4 linked regions of the Homo sapiens genome follow. The protein of the gene in region 2 purifies or fractionates together with the protein of the main gene of each other region. This does not show direct contact. Each region holds a gene or a part of one and is shown on either strand. Other genes may lie near its edges.

Region 1 (3,500 bases), on a different chromosome or scaffold from region 2:
CGCCTCCTGGGTTCAAGCAATTCTCATGCCTCAGCATCCCCAGCAGCTGGGACTGCAGGTGCGTGCCATTTTTAGTAGAAGCGGGGTTTCACCATGTTGGCCAGGCTGGTCTCGAACTCCTGACCTCAAGTGATCCACCCACCTTGGCCTCCCAAAGTGCTGAGATTACAGGCATCAGCCACCACGCCAGGCCTGACAATGTCTTTTATTTATTTATTTATTTATTTTTACTTTTTGAGATAGAGTCTTGCTCTGTTGCCCAGGCTGGAGTGCAGTGGTATGATCTCGGCTTGCAGCAATCTCTGCCTCTCGGGTTCAAGCGATTCTCCTGCCTCAGCCTCCTGAGTAACTGGAATTACAGGCATGTGCCACCATGCCCAGCTAATTTTTGTATTTTTAGTAAAGATGGGGTTTCGCCATGTTGACCAGGCTGGTCTCGAACTCCTGACCTCAAGTGATCCGCCTGCCTTGCCCTCCCAAAGTGCTGGGATTACAGGAGTGAGCCACCGCACCTGGCCAACAATGTCTTTTAAAAAATAAAATTGCTCTATGACAGTCCCTTCAAAAATGTAATTAAAAGAAGGATAAAAATGATCACTCTCCCTCTCCACTCCAGCTATTAAGTCTTCTCATTTTCACTAATCAGCAACAGTAATGCTCCCTATTTACTCCTCCAGTACGGGTCTCAAATTCATATAACTCCAAGCCAGGCAAGTACCATCAATTAAGCACAGCAAATAAGGGGGGACTATAAACTCCACCTAGGAGCTTACACACCGAGTTTCAACCCCAAAGCTGCTACTACAGTCCATCTCTCCATCCTGTTGTTGCTCTGAGAAATGCAGCACTGGCGCTACAAGATATTCCAATTTTTCCTAACAGAAGCCACAAATCCAAAACACACAGAATTTTCCATTTTTTAAACAGTGCAGGCCAAATTAAAAGTACCTGCAAACTGAATCTGCTTGTCTATATACAATAATACTCCAGGAACACAAGCATCCGTAAGAATCTCAAATATTTGACTCCTAAACCCTAAACAGAGCTCCCCACCCAGACACTATTACTCAGACTCCATGTTTAAGATGAATTATCCACGTAGTAAAAGAACATTAGTGGTAATCTTTCTCCCTTGAGGATGGATTCTGAGGTTCATTTAAAAAAATATATTGCTATTATAATATACTATTTTAATTAAAAAATCAAACCAATTAACATTGAGGTGGATGAATGAAATTCCTAACTTGAATAAATCTGTAAACATATTGTCTACATATTATAATTCATTTTGTAAAATAAAATGTTTTACAAACATTGTAAGTTTGTTAACTTGGGTAAAATGAAATGTCAGTCAGCTGGGTCCTTAGAAAGCAACCACTTGAGCAACTTAGCATCTCTAGGTGAAACATCAGGAACTGGCAGTCCAGAGAGGCTGATTCACTTTAGCAACACGAAAAAGGCAAAATAAATGAAGGGGGAAAGAAGTAATAACAACGTTAACTGGCAAGATATTTGTTATGTAATGATTACAAATGCCAAAGGATCGTAAGACTCCATACAATTCTCTTTACTGCTTTAGCTCTACTAAGAAGATTAGATAGCTAAAAAAGAATAAACTAGGCCGGGCACAGCGGCTCACACATGTAACCCCAGCACTTTGGGAGGCCGAGGTGGGTAGACTGCCTGAAGTCAGGAGTTCGAAACCAGCCTGGCCAACATGGTGAAACCTGTCTCTTCTATTTGGAAACACAATTCTGCTCAATTAAAAAAGAAATGCCACGTGGGACAGTACCCAAAGATTTAGCCTCATGATTTACTTTTAAAAGGATCCTCTAAAATGACCAATTTAAGAAAAAAAAATCAGCTTTATAGTCATACTCTTCTCAAGAGTTCTAGGTTAGTTTGGAAAGATATCCCACATATTTACTATATCGATGGCATGCTTTTAAAAAATAAATCACTTAAGAACAACATAGTTTGTGTGTGTGTGTGTGTGTGTGTGTGTGTGTGTGTTTAAAGGTGGCCTGGCCTTATCAGAGCTGCGTTTCAACACTTGAAAGCTGTGTGACTTTAAGCAAGTTATTTAACTACTCCGAGCTCCATTTCCTCATCTGTAAAAAAAGATGAACACTAGCTAGTTTAATTTTCCCTGTGAGAAGTATGCTATATCTTAGATGTATTGTAATTCATTCTTATCTGAAACTTGAATCAGTCCCACATCATCACCAGTTTGTTTATTTATTTATTTACTTATTTATTTTGGAGACGGAGTCTCACCCTGTCGCCCAGGCTGGAGTGCAGTGGTGCGATATCGGCTGGCTGCAACCTCTGCCTCCCAGGTACAAGCCATTTTCCTGCCTCAGCCTCCAGAGTAGCTGGGATTACAGGCGCCCGCCACCACGCCCAGCTAATTTTTGCATTTTTACTAGAGACGGGGTTTCATCAGGTTGGCCAGGCTGGTCTCACACTCCTGACCTTAAGTAATCCGCCTGTCTCAGCCTTACAAAGTGCTGGGATCACAGGCGTGAACCACTGCACCTGGCCCATCACCAGTTTAAAACACTGGACAGAACAGCTACACAGACAAGAAGTCATCACTTGCTGAGGCAGCCCTTTTCATCGTCATACTTGCTATTTTCTTCTACTAAGCTAAAACCGGCTTCCTGGCTACTTCAACCCCATCAATCCCATTCTAGTTTAAATCTTACAAAGCGCCGGGCAAGGTGGCTCACACCTGTAATCCCAGCACTTTGGGAGGCTGAGGTGGGAGGATCACTTGAATGAACCCAGGAGTTCCAGACTAGCCTGGGCAACAAAGCAAGACCTATCTCTACAAAAAAAATTTTTTTTTAATTAGCCAGGAGTGGTGGCACACACCTGTGGTCCTAACTACTTGGAAGGTTGAGATGGGAGGATTGCTTGAGCCCAGGAGGTCGAAGCTGCCGTGAGCCATGATCCTGACACTGTACTCCAGCTCTGGGCAACCGAACAAAATCCTGTCTCAACAAACAAACGAAAAACACAAAAAAATTACTAAGTATAGCTAATTCAATTCTCACTAGACTCTAAGCTTCCTGAGGGCTGAGTTCAAGTATTGTTCAGTACTGAAATCCCAGCATCTACAACAAGGATAAGCATATAGCAGGTGTACAATAAACATTTACAGATTGAGTGATATGCTCTGTGCAGCTGACTGAGCATTGAGATGCCATCCAGTATAAATAGCACAGATGTGCATACTTCTGGAAATGATCATTTAATGCTTCACATTTAGAAGTTGAAATATCATAACCAAATTCATGCTGTTTTTAAAAAAATCCCTTCAAAGTGAAAAGCAATTTTGCCATACTTTTAAATGGTTGTTATTCAATGATACAGATAATAGTTTTTCAAAGTAATAAACTTCTCAATGCCTCCATAACTTATTCATAACTTACTTCAGATTTACCTAAATTCCAAGTCTACATTAAAAAAAAAATCTCAAAATGATATGTAATCTC
Region 2 (3,938 bases):
CTCCGGCTGCACGGTCACCAGGTTGTTCCGTGACAGATCCAAGGTGAAGTTGAGGGTGCTGCAGTTGGGCCTGAAGTCTTCAGAGCTGGGAGTGTCCACTGGGGCCGGAGCAAGGTCCCCAGGCTGCAGCCAGACCTTCTCCCCTCCATCTGCCTCCCCCATGGTGGCTGTCAGCTCCGAAGCTCCGCTGATGCGGTTGTCCGACAGGTCCACGTAGCGCAGGCCAGGGAAGGCCCTGAAGATGCCGAGCTGGGCCTGGTTGATGAAGTTCATCTGCAGACGCAGAGTCTGGAGCATGGGCAGGCGGGCCAGTGGCCGGAGCGTGGTCTCATCGAGTGAGCGGAAGAAGATGCCGTGCATGTCCAGCTCCTTCAGGGCGACCAGGCTCCCGAAGGAAGGGGCCAGAGACAGGTGGGCAAAGGACACCCTCTTTTGGTAATTGAAGGACAGGTTAAGCTTGCGCAGCTGTGTTAGGCCCTGGAAGGCCTTGGTTTTAGTGATGCATTTGTAGAGGAAGTTCTCACTCAGGTCCAGCACTCGGAGGTTTCCCAGCCCACGGAACCAACTGGCATTCAGCCAGGAGAGAGAACTGTCCTTCAACACCAGGCCTTCAAGACGGCTCAGGTGGCTGAAGGTATCGGGATGTAGCTGGGGGAAGTGACGAGGGCACTCCATGCAGGGGTTGGGAGCGTGGTCGCAGCGGCGGCAATTTCCGCCCACATCGAGCACACGCAGGGCGGTCAGATTGGCCAGGTCCTCAGGCGCCAGTTTGACGATGCGGTTGTAGGACAACAGCAGATACTCCAGGCTGGAAGGCAGGTTGCGGGGCACCACAGTGAGGTTGTTGTACTTGAGTGACAGGTGGGTGAGGTTGCCCAGGCCAAGGAGGGCACCCGGGGCCACCTCCAGTGCCTGCCTGCAGGGGTTCTTGTAATAACAGTTGCCGTCCATGAATAGGAAGCGCAGGGCATGCAGGCCGGCGAGGCTGGCAGAGTCTAGCATCAGGATGTTGGTATGGCTGAGGGACAGGGATATGAGGGATTTGGGCAGCGCAGGCACAGTCATGATGTTGTTGTAGCTCAGGTTTAGCTCTTCCAGGGTGGGCACAGCCAAGAAGGTGCTGGGCTCGATGGTCATGTGGCAGGGGAAGTGCATGGGGCTGAGGCCAACCGGCGGGCAGTTCCACTTGAGGTTGAGATGCCGCAGGCTGGGCAGGTGGGCAAAGTCAGAATCATGGAGGTGGTGGATGCGGTTGGAGGACAAGGAAAGGCTGGTGACATTGCCACGGGGTGCTGCCATGGAGAAGTGGGGCACAGACTTCAGGAACAGCCAGTTGCAGTTCACCAGGCCGTGGGGCTGGAGCTCACAGGGTAGGAAGGCAGGCAAGGTACCCAGGGCCAGGGTCATGGCCAGCATGATGGCCTGCACCAGGAGAGACAGCGGGTGCAGGGCGCTGCGGCAGAAACCCTGTGGGGGTGGGAGGGCTGTGTGAGTGGCCGGCCCCCAGCTCTACCTCCACCCACTCCACTTCATGGGCATCTTCTAGCATCTTCCAACCCCTCTCTCCAAGCCCTACCTGCAGAAGTTCTTCCTGGCTGCCAAGCCCCATTCCCATCCCCCATGGCTTGTGGGGAACCTGAACTCAGTCTCAGACCCAGTCTTGGACTCAGAATTAGGCTTCAGAACCAGGACTGAGACCTAGAATCCAGACTTATGATCTACAGCTTTCACTTAACCAATCCCTGGCTATACCAGGCCAGGCAAGGTGGCCCACGGCCCCCCCTGGTCTCTCCCCGACTTTCCCTTCCTGCTCCTGAGCAAGGTGGCAGCTGGCTCCCTCCCCTCCAGCTGCCCTGAAATCCGCTCTCTGCCCTCCACCAGCCACCCCACAACCCCTTCCTTTTCCTTCGGCCAAGATTCAGGCAGGTGTGAGAGTCTCCCACTATGGCCCAGGCCGGCTGCCTCCCAGGGACCCTGGCCAGAGGGCACTGCACAGCTCCATCACTCTCTGCCTGCCTCACCTAGCCCGAGAGCCTTTGCCTTATGGGTCAGAACAGATGGAGAGAGGGGTGGCCTGCAAAGTGCCAGACAGAGCCAGCCCCAAGCTACAGGCCCAGTGAGACCCAAACCCAGGCTCCAGCCCCAGCTCCATCAGTGCCTCAGTCTCCTCGTCCCCTCTGGGGGTTTGGGTCTCATTGCTCAGAAGAGGGCTTCAGTGGCTGGGCACGGTGGCTCACACCTGTAATCCCAGCAGTTTGGGAAGCCGAAGTGGGCAGATCACCTGAGGTCTGGAGTTCAAGACCAGCCTGACCAACATGGAGAAACCCTGGCTCTACTAAAAATACAAAATTAGCCAGGCATGGTGGCGCAAGCCATAATCCCAGCTACTTGGGAGGCTGAGGCAGGAGAATCACTTGAACCCGGGAGGTGGAGATTGCAGTGAGCTGAGATCAAGCCACTGCACTCCAGCCTGGGCAACAAGAGCGAAACTCCGTCTCAAAAAAAAAAAAAAAGAAAAAAGAAGAGGGCTTCGGCTCTGAAGTCTTCAGGATTCAGTGAGTGTCCCCAGGGCCATGTGGGTGACAACCCGTCACTGTTGCTTGCAGCTGCCAAGCCCACTTCTTTCCCCACCCCTTCCCAGGATATCCCCTTCCCCAGGGGACTGAGAGCTGTTGTCCTACCATGCTGGGGGGCAGGGGCTTCTCCAGAGGGTCTGGCGGGCAGACTGGACAGCAGCTACAGGGAAGGATGCTTCACACTCGAGGTCCCTTCCCACAGGGGCAGCAGCGGCTCAGAGAATAGAGGAAGTAAGATTTTTATACCAGCCTAGTAGCTCCCCCTCCACTCCACCCTGCCCCCAGTGAGGAGGACAGGGTCCCATGAGTCAAAGGCCATTTGCATAGTCAAATGGCAGACAGCTCCTTCACCCCTTCCTCTTTCCACTCCCCTCTCAGACAGCCTACATCCCATGAGGGCCTCACACCTGTCCTCTACCAAGCCCAGGGAGGAGCTAAGGCCCAGAGCTCAGGCAGAGAGCAGGGAGAGATGGGAATTCTGGATAGCACCAGTAGCGGGTACACCTTGCTGGGCACTCCCCATTCTAAGAGGACACTTCCACCCTCAGGTCTTGGCTCCTGCACCACAGCTGGTGCCCTCAGGACAGCGGCTGCCGACTTGTCCTTTTCTGCCCTTGTAGGCACCATCTCCAGAGTTCTGCAGGGCCTCATGCGTGGAGGGCCAGGGTGTAGCTTGAGCAGGAGGCTAGGCTGCACCTGCCTTCACCACAGCCTTGCAACATCTTCCGGAAACAAGACCTCCTCCTCCACATTCCCAGAGCCCCTGGGGCCCCATCAGAGCACACACCACGTCACTCCAGATGGGGCTCCTAGAGGCCAGGTGTGTGCTGGCCCAGCAGGGCCGCCAGCCAGTCCTCCCCATCAGTTCTTCCCACTCTCCTTCTGATCTAGGTGAGGAGACTCAGATTCCTCGGGCCCAAAGCCTTGGGTGACCCCGGGCCCCTCAGCAAGTTCTGCTGGGTCCACCATGCTGAAGGGTGTGCCCACAGCCCACCGTCCCCATGTCCACCAGCCCCCATCCTCTCTCCTAGACCCATGCAGGTGCCACCTCCCTTCTGGCTGTCCTGCCCTGCTCTCTGCCCTCCAGGGGCTGGTCACATTCAGCCCCTAGAGGGAACTGTTCAAACCTAAGTCACACTAGGTCCCTCCTCTGCTCAGACCCCTCCCTGGCTGACTCTGGAGTCAAAGCCACAGTCCACAGATGGCCAACAAGGCCCTATGGGACCTGCCACCCGCTGTTCCCCTGAGTGCTCTCCAGGCCCACTGGCCTGCTTGCAGTTGACTGTGTAGCCCCTGGGCATTCTCCTGCCTCAGGGCCTTGGGATGTGCTGTTCCCTCTGCCTGAAAACTCCCCCAAGTCTC
Region 3 (3,500 bases), on a different chromosome or scaffold from region 2:
CTATCCCTTATAACTCAGTCCCAACAAACACACAGAGGCATGACCCCAATCAGTAAGGAAGGTTTACCCTTCCACATCCCGTCAATGAGTGGAGAGAGGCCTTCTGTTCCTAACCCCGCACCCAAACTAACCATTGTGTTATCCTTCAAAATCAAGCCAGAATTACCTTTCTAAAGGGCGGATCCACATTATTTTCAGAGGCATCTGCCTCGAGACCACTTCGTGACTGCCTCTGTGTTCGTAGGATCTCAGGCCTTCCTCCACTTGCCCACCCAAGTCGATCCATGCAACCCCACCACGCCCACGTGGCAGTCCTCACTCCACACACGGTGGGTGAGTTCTGTGGATACGCAGGCATATTTGCCACCTCCTCCCCCTACTCATATGATTTCCTTCACTTGAAACACCTTCCATCTCTTCTGGATGCACAAGTGACCGAGCTGGGTGTGCCATCCTTGCCTTCTCCCTTAAAAACGCTCAATAACACTTCATTGCATTTTTCTATTTTTTTTTTTTAATTATTTTGAGATGGAGTCTCGCTCTGTTGCCCAGGCTGGAGTGCAGTGGCACGATCTCGGCTCACTGCAACCTCCGCCTCTAGGGTTCAAGTGATTCTCCAACCTCAGCCTCCCGAGTAGCTGGGACTACAGGCTTGCACCACCGCTTCCAGCTAATTTTTGTATTTTTACTAGAGATGGGGCTTCATCATGTTGGCCAGGCTAGTCTTGAACTCCTGACCTCAAGTGATCCACCTGCCTTGGCCTCCCAAAGTGCTGCGATTACAGGCGTGAGCTGCCGCGCCCGGCCTTCAGTGCATTTTTCTTTGTATGAAGGCCCCAAGGACAGTGTTCTTGTTAGACCCAATTTTGCACATCTGATGCTTATACTAATATTTGTTCACTAAGTGAATCTAAATATTAATGCCTTCATTGTCAATAGAAATAAGTCATAAGGTAAACAAAAGGCCCTTCTTCATCAAATTAACCTCTTCTCAGGGAAGACACTGAAACTATTTCTACAGATTATCATCTTACCTTTTAATAACAAATTTAATTCGATTGCCCACTTGAATGATTTTTTCCAGCCTTGGGATTCCATACCATGAGGGACTTCGGAAAGGAATGTTTTCTGGCAGTCCTTCCACGTACAGATCATTCGGGTGTGCCTCAAATTTTTGGTACGGTACAGCCTTGGCTTCAGTGCTCCCCAAGGCTTCCGCTGGACAAAAATCAAAGCAATTCGGGAGACTACATTTGTATTGAAATCAGATTTTAGTACAATCCAAAGAAAGGCACAGGTCAATTTTGTTTTACTTGAAAAAAACTCTTTCTAGAAACATATTTATTAACTATTGAATAGACTTAATACAGCAAAGACAAGTAGAGATGACCGATCATCAACAGCCAGATTTGGGCAGATTTAAGTGTCCTGGTCCTAAGACAATCTTAATAGCTCTGAGATCTTTAAAAGATTAAAGTTTGTTTTTCAATATCCTTAGGAAGAAAAGAGAGAAAGAAAATCATCATGGACAATAGAGGACACAACCTAAATACTATCTGGAAGCAGCCTTTTGCTACTAACTGTTCAGGACCGTAATTACCCTCCTCCATCGGCTATGGCAAACTGGTAACACATTTCCGACTACACTTTCATCTGCGTGGCAACCAGATCAATGTTCTTTACCCCTTCAACCTCACGAGCATGCCATTTTAAAGGAAATAACTTTCCACAGATAATTCATAGAATGGGGGCCGGGCGCGGTGGCTCACGCCTATAATCCCAGCACTTTAGGAGGCTGAGGCGGGTGGATCACCTGAATTCAGGAGTTTGAGACCAGCCTGGCCAACATGGCGAAACCCCATCTCTACTAAAAATACAAAAGTTAGCCAGGCGTGGTGGCGGGCACCTGTAATCCCAGCTACTTGGGACGCTGAGGCAGGAGAATTGCTTGAACCCGGGAGGAGGAGGTTGCAGTGAGCTGAGATCGTACCACTGCACTCCAGCCTGGGCAACAGAGCAAGACTCCTTCTCAAGAAAAAAAAAAAAACCCAAAAAAAAAAAACAGGGAAAACTAAAGCTGAGTCCTATTCACTGTATTTACTTTCCTAAAATAAAACAACATTTAAAAAAATGTTACTCAGTAATACATTTTAGTTGAAGGGGTAATTAAAAAAAACAGACTTACCAAATTTTTTGCAGAAAAGCTGATCCACCATCTTTCTTAATTTAGTGATTCTGGCATACCATTCTTCCTTTACTGTCAAAATAACAGTAATACAAGTGTTCTCAATTTAATGGGTTTAATAACTTGATTATTAAACATTATTACTATAAAATAAGAGGTATAACTTTTCCTTTTCCTATGGCCAAAATTATTTCTAAGATTCGTGGCCAGGTGCAATGGCTCACACCTGTAATCCCAACACTTTGGGAAGCCGAGGCAGGCGGGTCACTTGAGGTCAGGAGTTTGAGACCAGCCTGGCCAACATGGTGAAACCCCATCTCTACTAAAAATACAAAAATTAGCCAGGCGTGATGGCGCACGCCTGTAGTCCCAGCTACTCATGAGGCTGAGGCAGGAGAATCGCTTGAACCCAGGAGGCAGCGGTTGCAGTGAGCTGAGATTGCGCCATTGCACTCCAGCCTGGGCAACAGAATGAGATTCCGTCTCAAAAAAAAAAAAAGACAATAATAAAATTATTCCTAAGATTCTAGAATGTATTTATTTCTAAAACAATGCTGACACTGTACAAAAAGAGGAAGAACGAAACATTCATTAGAGCTAGGAAAAAGCAAAACTCAGTGTATTCAGGAACAGCTAGCAGGTAACACTTGCTACAGGAAGATTAGGGCTATGATCTTGCTGCAGTCCTTCTATCTTAGTAAATATCAACAGGGTGATTCCATTCTGTTTTATCCTCACTCCACTCCACTCCAGAGCAAAAGCAAGCAAGAAAATCAATTATATTTCTATTTATTTTAAAACACATCTAACAGGCTGGGCGCGGTGGCTCATGCCTGTAATCCTAGCACTCTGGGAGGCCGAGGTGGGCAGATCACCTGAGGTCAGCAGTTTGAGATCAGCCTGGCCAACATAGTGAAACCCTGTCTCTACGAAAAATACAAAAATTAGCTGGGCATGGTGGCAGGCACCTGTAATCCCAGCTACAGGGAGGCTGAGGCAGGAGAACTGCTTGAACCCAGGAGGCGGGAGGTTGCAGTGAGCGGAGATCGCACCACTGCACTCCAGCCTGGGCAACAGAGCAAGATTCCCTCTCAAAAAACAAAACAAAACAAAACAAAATACATCTAACAATTAAGAGATGATATAAATGGCTCCATGCTCTAAAAGGAAACCTTCTTATGTCCTGCATATCATGGACATTCAATGAATGCTTGTTCCATTGACTCGTGTAGACTTCAATAATAAACTGTTCAATGCATTATGCCAGATAAATCTTGCATCAAAAGTAGAACAAATATTGTTCTTTTACTTCTGT
Region 4 (3,311 bases), on a different chromosome or scaffold from region 2:
AGCAGCAAATGGGGTTTCCAGTCGCCCTGGATATGTGGAGCTAACCCAGATGACCCCGAAGCCCTCCAGGCCCAGCCCCCACGGCTGAGAACACAGAAGGGCTGGCTGCCAGGGCCGCGGGATTAGTGCCCTCACTCGTGCACATGACCGGTCCCAGCAGGGGGGCCGCGGGGGCTGGGTGCACATGGGCCCTGAGCCTGGTACAGCCTGGCCAGGCGGTGCGGGGCGGGGGGTGGACAGGCAGCCCCTGTCTGCCCTCAGCTGGGGCCCGGGGCTCTGGTCACGTCCTGCCTCCCCAGGTCTCCTCAGCTGGGCTGGTGCCTGCTGACTCGCACAGCCCTCCCCTCCCACTGTGGGGACAGGACACCCCGTGACTCATACGGTGGGCAGCCTGAAGACCCCGAGACGCAGGATGGGCAGAGGGTGTGGCCAGGGTCTGGGACCGCACGCACCTGGCCGCAGCCTATCAGGGACTTTGCCTGGCACAGCCAACAGAGCAGGCAGGTGGGTCCCAGCTCAGCCCAGCCTCCCAGCAGAGCCTCCCGGCTTCTCAGGACCCTTCTGTTCTCGCTCCACCCACCCTGCCTGTGCACACCTAGCTTTGGTTACCAAAGGGCCTGGCCTCCACCTGGGACAAAGGGCCAAGCAGCCAGCCCCAACCTGCCCAGATGGAGGTGTGAGCTGAGCCCAGCCCCGCCTCTCCCTCCTCCCTGCACACAGCTACCTGCCTCCCATCCCCCACGCAGCCCCAGCCAAGGCTCCCACGGGTGGCCGGACCCTAGACCAGGCTGCACGAGTGCAATGCCCAGAGCAGGCTCCCGGGAAGCTGGGTGCTCCCTGAGTCAAGTGTGGCCCCAGCGCCAGGCACGGCCTCCACCCATGAGAAAGCTGAGGGAGGAGCGTCCAGGCCGCTCCTGGGGTTCCCGGCTTCAGAAGGACCACCTAGGCGGCACCTATGGGAAGAGCTGGCGGAGAGACGAGAAGGAAAGGAAAACTGACAAGAAGGGACTCAGCCAACAACAGTGAGAGCCTCTGGCCACCCAGGATCTGCCTGCACAGGGGTAGAGGCAGGGAGGAGCCCAGCCTGGGGCTTGGTGCTGGCCAGGAGGTGGTGTCAGTAGGAAGGGCAGATGTCAGGGTGGCTCTTGGGTCTAAGGATCAGAGAGCGAGGCCTTGGGAGTGGAGGCGGAAGTTGCACAGCAGGTGAGGGCGGACGGCCCTGGGTGTCCAGGACTGAGCCCTGGGGACACTGACACGCTCCAGCTGGGCAGAGAGCCAAGAGGGGAGGAGGGGAGTAGGGCAGAGGGGACGGGAAGGGGCCGCCAGACAGGTAGGAGCCAGGCCAGGTGGTGCTCCACGAAGAGGAAAAGCTACAGCGCCGAGTCTCAAGGGAGGCAGGTGTGAGGATGAGAATGGGTGTCCCACCCTCCAGGAAAGCAGCCCGGGCGTGGCTGCAGCACACAGCAGTCTGCTCCAAGCTCAGCCCTGCAAGACGGGGCACCTGCCGCTTCTGCCAATGGATAACTTAAGTGGGCCTGTGCCTGCCAGGCAGGCCCCCACCCCGGCACACAGGCCAGCAGCTCCCCACTGCCCAGAGCAGGGCTGCACCCCTCGGAGGCGGGCAAGGGTATCATACCCTGTGCAGGCACAGCCAGCCCTGGGGCAGGCCCCTCACCGACTCCCACCACCCAGACAACTCCACTGAAGAGCTGCCCTTCACCTGTACCCCAGGAAAAGCAGCAGCACCGCCAGCCGCTGAGGTGCACAGTGAGCCGTTGGCCCACAGTCAGGTCCTGCTAGACTCCGGGCCCTGCAATCCCTGCACTCCACCCCCACGCCCGGGGGTCACAGCCAGTGGTCCCAACCAAAGGCTGGGGTCAGCACGGTGGCTCACGCCTGTAATCCCAGCACTTTGGGAGGCTAAGGCAGGCGGATCATCTGAGGTCAGGAGTTCGAGACCAACCTGGCCAATATGGTAAAACCTCGTCTCTACTAAAAATACGATAATTAGCTGGGCATGGTGGCAGGCGCCTGTAATCCCAGCTACTTGAGAGGCTGAGGCAGGAGAATCGCTTGAACCCTGGGAGATGAAGTTTGCCCTGAGCCGGGATCCTGCCACTACCCTCCAGCCTGGGCGACAGAGCAAGACTCTGTCTCAAAAAACAAAAAATAAAAAAAGGCTGGCCAGGGTGGTCAGACAAGGCCAGGCACAGGACCCGCAGGGGCACCTCGCACCCCCACCAGTGAGTGCTCCTGGCCCAGGGGCCACAGAGTACATGGGACAGCCCTGCCCCACAGCCCACCGTGCCGAGGCCAGCAAGCCATTCTGAAAGGCAGGGCAGCCCCACGCCTCTGTCCCCTCCTGATGGACATTCTGGCTCTTCCCAGGCAGGGCAGCTGGCCTGTACCCAGGCGGGAAGTCACAGCCAGCAGGTCATGCTGCTCTGGCAGGGCCCTGCCCGGGCCACCTGGCCATGCCAGGTATCGTCCATCTGGACCCCCACCCCTTCAGGCTGGCCCGAGCTCCTCCCTCCTGCTGGTCCAGGGCCTGTTTCCCAGGCTCAGCCTCTCCCCCACTGCATCTTCCTGCTCCTGTTGGCCCTCCGGCCCCCACCCTGCCCTTCTGACCCTAACCCAGCCGCAAATGACCCCCACAGTTCTGTCCCTTCTTTGCTTTTTTCTTTTTGAGACAGAGTCTCACTCTGTCGCCCAGGCTGGAGTGCAATGGCGCGATCTCGGCTCACTGCAAGCTCCGCCTCCCGGGTTCAAGCAATTCTCCTGCCTCAGTCTCCTGAATAGCTGGGATTATAGGCGCCCGCCACCACGCCCAGCTAATTTTTTTATATCTTCTTAGTAGAGACGGGGTTTCACCACCTTGGCAAGGCTTGTCTTGAACTCCTGACCTCGTGATCCACCCGCCTCGGCCTCCCAAAGTGCTGGGATTACAAGGTGTGAGCCACCGCGCCCAGCCCAGTTCTGTCCCTTCTGAGGGCAAGATGGCCAGACTCTAGGCAGTGGCCTCAAGTCCCAGGAAGAAGCCAGGCTCCCAGGGATGGCCACACAGGTTAAGGGGAGGGGTTCTAGAAACAGAAACCTGAACTCCGTACTCGCCCCACAAGCCCCATGACCCCGTCTGACTCCCAAGCTGAGGCGCAGTTTCTCTCTACAAAGGGGGAGCTGTCCCCACTGCCACCTCTGGGGCAAGCCCAGGAGGTGCCCACCTCACACAGCAGCCAGGGCCAAAGGTACAGACGCAGGGGAGGGAGAGGCAGACAGGAGCTGGAGGAGAGAGGCTGTGGCTATCAGACTGA

The links.
Region 1: the proteins of TLR9 (region 2) and PDZD8 purify together in Homo sapiens (affinity purification with mass spectrometry; one large-scale study listed by BioGRID and IntAct). This does not show direct contact.
Region 3: the proteins of TLR9 (region 2) and GTF2I purify together in Homo sapiens (affinity purification with mass spectrometry, with the first as the bait; one large-scale study listed by BioGRID). This does not show direct contact.
Region 4: the proteins of TLR9 (region 2) and TPRN purify together in Homo sapiens (affinity purification with mass spectrometry, with the first as the bait; one large-scale study listed by BioGRID). This does not show direct contact.

Annotation. Positions count from the first base shown.
Region 1 is NC_000010.11:117,368,941-117,372,440, forward strand, and holds part of PDZD8 (PDZ domain-containing protein 8), read right to left. Parts: intron 1-3,500. UniProt on the Homo sapiens protein: Molecular tethering protein that connects endoplasmic reticulum and mitochondria membranes. PDZD8-dependent endoplasmic reticulum-mitochondria membrane tethering is essential for endoplasmic reticulum-mitochondria Ca(2+) transfer.
Region 2 is NC_000003.12:52,222,846-52,226,783, forward strand, and holds the start of TLR9 (toll-like receptor 9 precursor), read right to left. Parts: upstream 2,801-3,938; 5' UTR 2,685-2,800; coding exon 2,682-2,684; intron 1,468-2,681; coding exon 1-1,467.
Region 3 is NC_000007.14:74,734,218-74,737,717, reverse strand, and holds part of GTF2I (general transcription factor II-I), read right to left. Parts: intron 2,258-3,500; coding exon 2,186-2,257; intron 1,219-2,185; coding exon 1,035-1,218; intron 1-1,034. UniProt on the Homo sapiens protein: Interacts with the basal transcription machinery by coordinating the formation of a multiprotein complex at the C-FOS promoter, and linking specific signal responsive activator complexes.
Region 4 is NC_000009.12:137,194,431-137,197,741, forward strand, and holds part of TPRN (taperin), read right to left. Parts: intron 1-3,311. UniProt on the Homo sapiens protein: Essential for hearing. Required for maintenance of stereocilia on both inner and outer hair cells. Necessary for the integrity of the stereociliary rootlet.